Regions from separate parts of the Homo sapiens genome. Here region 1 is linked to region 2. The links come from fine-mapping of genetic effects on gene expression. Tissue or cell type: sun-exposed skin. Region 2 holds a variant in brackets; the other region holds the start of a gene. All regions are shown on one strand. Distances are between the middles of the regions.

Region 1 (2,500 bases), 130 kb before region 2:
ACCTCTGCTGCCCTCCACCCGCATTCACAGTTCCTTAACCCAAATTGACTTTCTCCTTTCTGGAGTCCACTTTAGAAATCTCCTTTCCTTGTTTAAGGGCCACACGATAGCCCCTGCCCCAATGGATGACTGGAGGGTAGACTCACCCTCCTTCAGGGCCCTGCCTCAAGGGCACAGGTCTGTCCTTCGGGGGACCTCCATAGTTACTGGGTAATTAGTGAGCAGCCGGGTTTCCGGGATTCATTGCTGTGAACAGAGCAGCGATGCACACAGGCCCATGTGTTTAAATGCCCAGTGAGCCCTGTCCATTTTTTTCCCCCTCTTGGAACACTGAATATTTAAAGCCATTTTCTTTGTGGCCTTAGTTGTCACAGAAAGGGCCCAAGCACTGAGCTGGGAGCAGGGGGCTGGGACTTCCTGCTCCTAAGTCATTCCTCAACCTTGGGCAAATTCGGTAACTGTAGGGTCTCACTTTTAAGGAGTGTAAACCACATGGTGGGCACCAAACAGGATAAGATCCTGGAATTCTCTAGAGTTCAACAGTGGAGGTGGGGAGGGAGGGGACCGGAAGGCCTGTCCTGGCATTTTCAGTAGTCTCCACAGGAAGTTCTGTCCTGGCATTTTCACTAATTTCCAGTGACCCCACAGAGGGTCACTTGGAGACTCAGTGGCCAGAGACCCCACAGCGTACCCCAGCTCCTAGGAGTTGGCCTGCTTCTTGTTCCTTCCTAGAAGCTGGAGTCACATTACTGGACCGGAAAAGGCTCCTAGTATCTAAACCAACGAAGAAGGCCCTTCTTTCACAGCCCCCCCGCACTTTGGAGACTCCCACAACTTTACCTCCACACTAGTTTGCCCCCCGACCCAGGCCCTCGACACTCCCCACGCAGGGCTCCCAGGATTCGGGGATGGGCAGGGCTCGGGTCCTGGTCCCTCCAAGTGGGGGCTGCCTCTCCAGAGTGGACAGGGGACCCGCGGAGGGGGTGTCTTATCCCGGACGGGAGGGAGACGCTGCCTCCTGGACCAGGTACTGGGACCCACGGGCCCACCCCCAGTTGCGTCACCCGGCCCACCGCCCCCTGAGACATCACAATCTGGGGGCCGGGACCCGCGCCTCATCACAGCCGGTTTGTAACCAAACAATCCAACCTACAAACACCCCGGAAAGAAAAAAAACACAAGCTGGCCTGACCCAGCCTCCCGCCCCTGCCCCGCCCCGCCCCGCCCCTCGCCCCTCGCCCCTCGCTCCTCAGGGCCCCCGCCCCCGCACGGGGGAGTGAGAGCGAGCCCGCCGCCCCGCACCCGCCGCCCCGCGCTCGCTCGCGCCAGCCCGCGGCGGGGGCGGCCCCGACCGCGCCGCCCGCCCCTCCCCGCCCCGCCCCGCCCCGCCCGCGCCCGCGCCCCGCCCGCGCCCGCCGCGACTCCAGCTCCGCGGCGCCCTCGCCGGGTGCGTGCCGCTCGCGCGCCCGCCAGCCAGGCTCTCCGCGCCCGCCGCCCGCGCCGCGCTGGCCCGGGCTCTCCCGCCCGCGCTTCATGGCTGCACACGAGTGGGACTGGTTCCAACGCGAGGAGCTCATCGGGCAGATTAGCGACATCCGAGTGCAGAACCTGCAAGGTAACGCAGCCCAGGCTCGCCCCGGGATGGCTGGGCGCTCGGGGGGCCCGGGGCGCCGCTCCGACACTTGGCAACTCCCCCGCGCCGCCCCCGCTCGCCGGCCGCTCGTTGTTCCTGTCACTTGCCTCGAGGTGGGAGGCTGGGGTTGGATACCCGCCCCCAAGCCCCAGGGCGGCCAGCCGCGGCCAGGTTTACAGTTGCCCAGGGGGTGGGGCGCCACACGTGTGTGTGTTGTGGGGCGAGGGCTCGCATTTTCATTAGGGGGACGTCACCACCCCCTCCAGTCACCGCTGCGAGTTTGGAGAAGTTTGTACGTGGGCTCTTGGGGGCGGTGGCCCAGGTTAGGGAGGGGAGGAGACAGTGCGACTCTGTGTGTGTGTGTGTGTGTGTGTGTGTGTGTGTGTGTGAGTTCGCGCACTTCCTAAGTACCTTCGAGGCAAGGGGAATTGAATGGTGGGCGGCGCTTCAGGGGGTGAGTTGGGGAAAGCGGGGCCAGGGGTGCGGATCGGATCGGTGGGGTCAGGCAAGCACCCAACTCCAGCGGCCACTTTGCTTAGGGAGCTGCCCCTCCCCTGCAGGATCAGGACTCTAACTGGGGAGAGGGCGAGAGCCCCACCCTTCCCCCACGCTGGCCCCCAACTCCGACCCTGCCTGGGCACAGGACACTGGGACCAAGGCTTCTACCTGGGAGGTAGCTGAGAAGAGGTGAAAGAGAAACTCCAGTGGTGGAGAGCGGCTGGGTATGGCGGTGCCACACATGAAGTGTGTTTCTCTTTCAAAAGAATTTATTCAATGTGGAAACTTAGAAAGCACAAAAATATTTGAAGGAAAAAAGTCACCCATAATTTCCCCTCCACAACCTATCCACCCAACAGACAGGTGTTC
Region 2 (2,500 bases):
GGCCCCTGCTAATCAATTCCTTTCCATCCTTCCTCCTCCCCAGCCCAGAGCTTTGAAATTACTGGCATGCAACAGCTATACTTTTGGATAGAAGACAAGCAGATTGGAACCTTATCATTAAGCACAGTCCGATCGGATATCCGGTTTGGGCAATAAGAGATGTAAATAAAGTGAGGATTTTAAAGCCCAAAGGCCTCCTTGCTATAAAAACGCACCCAAAACGCCTCACCTGGACCCCGCGCGCACCCAGAAGGATCACGTTCAGAGACAGAGGTGCAACATGAGTCAAGGTCCGATGGACAGTGGCACGTGCTCAGTAGCAGATGTGTTAGAACCCGGAGCAGCACACCCCAATCCGGGTTCCGGGTGGTGGGGTCTCTCGCACTCACAAGGGAGGGGCTTAGGGGAGGAGGTAGAGGAATGTATATTGTTTAGCACTTTGATTTTGGATCTAGACGCTGGCGGTATTGAGAAATGCCCGGCATGCTCGGCTTTGTGTGTTTAAAATCGTTTTATCTTCTGTTTCAGAGATTTCATCTTTACTAATTGGGTTGCGGGGGCTTTTGTTTATAAATTTCACTGTAGGATCATTTTAGCTATGTTCAGTTGAGGAACGCAGCAGATCTGGATGACAGAAGAAACCGAATATTAACCAGGTTGGTGGCTTTACTTCAGGTTTTGTGGGGGTAGTAATAAAATGTTTTTACATTCTGCAGCCTGCCTTACAGGGGTGGTTATTCTCCCACTGCTTTGTTGATAACAGTATTAATAATTTGGGATAATGCAAGAAAATAACTATTCCAGAGAAAATGATGTAAATTGAATATGAGTAGAAAGGAAAAGTAGATATTAATTAACACTGATGGTTAGGGCCCGGTTCCGAAAATGAGTCAGTTTAAAGACGGGTCTGGGTTCTGAGCCTGCAGCTGTGTTTAAATGAGTGGTATAGAGTATAGGGTGGTTTAGTGGTATAGGGTAGTTAGCAAAGGGACGGCCAGGCAGGAGAAGAGGTGGTGGTCTTGTGAGGCTGTGTGGCCCCTGTGAATGCTGTAGCCCCTGACGCCTGTCCATTC[T/C]CTGTTGCCACTGCAGGTACAGTACTCAGAAGCTTACTGAGCTGATTTTACAGTTTTATGGCATCAGAGCAGACATGAAGAGGGAAAGCAAACATGCCAGGATGTCTATGAAAGTATTTCTTGCTGTCGGAGAACTGTTGGCCTGGCCTAATGTTGCTGAATTGCTGGAAACCTGCCCATTTAAAACATAGGAAACCAGAAAAACGTCTCAAATTCTTACAATTCTGAGACGTCCCCATTCCTGTTGAAGTCATAGAGTTGCTTTATTATGTTTTTATTTTTAAAAAATTTTATTTACTCGCCACAGATTTGAATTGGCTTGGAAGGATTTAGATTACTGGAATCGGAAGCCTCTGTCTGAATATTACCCAACACCCAAGAGTGTGGTCATTAGAACCCCATCCCTCTGGCTGCTAAAAAAGAAGCAAGACAGCTCCTTTCCCCTGCCATGAAATGGAAATACTAATTCAAGTTTTCCACCAGGCTGGATATGCTCATAGGAAAATAATCCTTTTTGCTCTTATGAGATAGAGGCGTTGAAAATAGAACCTGTAAAGTTGAGAAATGCAGTCGTGTTTTCAGTTGTCTACATTGAGCATTTATTACCTTTATAATAAAAAATATGGTTTAGGCTGCGCATGGTGGCTCACGCCTGTAATCCCAGCACTTTGGGAGGCCAAGGAGGGAGGACTGCTTGAGGCCAGGAGTTTGAGACTAGCCTGGGCAACACAGAGAGACCGTGTCTCTATAAAAAGTATATAGTTTAACTTGTTTCTGTGGACAGCTTTTTAAAGAAGACCATCATGTGGGTATTTATCATTCAGTATGTAGACTGTGGCAGATGTTTAATCCCACCCTGCCCCTCGCTCCTGCTATCAGGAGATAGTTCTGGGACAAGTGGTTTTAGCCTCTCGTAATCTCCATTACACCGCACGAAACCACCCTAAGAGGCTTACACTGCAGGCTTCTCTACATGCAGCTCCAAGCAGAGGCCCCAGCCCCAGGCAAAACCTTCTGGGCTTCCCTATGATCCGCCAGGCAAAACTGAAATGACATTTTAACACTACCACCTATAAAATAAAAGCAGGAAGGTAAATCTGACTGAAATCAAATCTAGTAATTATTTTAAAGGTAATATTCCAAAGCCAAAACAAAACTGTGGGGAATGGGAGAGGTCTTTGTTTCTTTCTGATAGATGATTTAAAATGATCTGCTATTAGGGACACTTCATCCCTTAGATGACCTATGGGGTCCCCTGCGTTACTAACAAACAGCAGCAAGCGATCAGTATCTAACTCCGTGTCACTCTCTGAGAGCACTGTGGCATCAAGAAAGGTGTCCCAGGAGACCTGGCCTAGGCGCCCTCTCTGTCGCCAAGTTAATTGCATGGCCTTGGGCAAGTCACTCCACCCCGAAAGCCTCAGTGT

Alleles and levels. Positions count from the first base shown, and alleles are read on the strand shown. Sizes are in standard deviations (SD) of each study's normalised expression.
For the expression in sun-exposed skin of the gene that starts at base 1,418 in region 1, allele T in region 2 goes with a lower level than allele C (small effect, 0.23 SD a copy in GTEx).

What was found. PIP is the estimated chance that this variant, and not a neighbour inherited with it, causes the effect.
Region 1: it holds the start of CLMN, and the variant in region 2 is fine-mapped to the expression of CLMN in sun-exposed skin (GTEx, PIP above 0.99). The same link has a PIP of 0.9 or more in breast, esophagus mucosa, gastroesophageal junction, spinal cord and thyroid.

What each region holds. Positions count from the first base shown.
Region 1 is chr14:95,318,826-95,321,325 of GRCh38, reverse strand. It overlaps CLMN (calmin), which reads left to right and starts at 1,418. Exons shown (of 13, transcript NM_024734.4): 1 at 1,418-1,615. The coding sequence starts at 1,534. RefSeq lists a silencer at 1,438-1,697 and enhancers at 2,328-2,407, 2,428-2,500.
Region 2 is chr14:95,192,005-95,194,504 of GRCh38, reverse strand. CLMN (calmin) reads left to right here. Exons shown (of 13, transcript NM_024734.4): 12 at 586-656. Among named protein-coding and RNA genes, the nearest start is that of DICER1-AS1, 36 kb to the right of the region's middle. The variant T/C (reference allele first, on the strand shown) is at 1,074.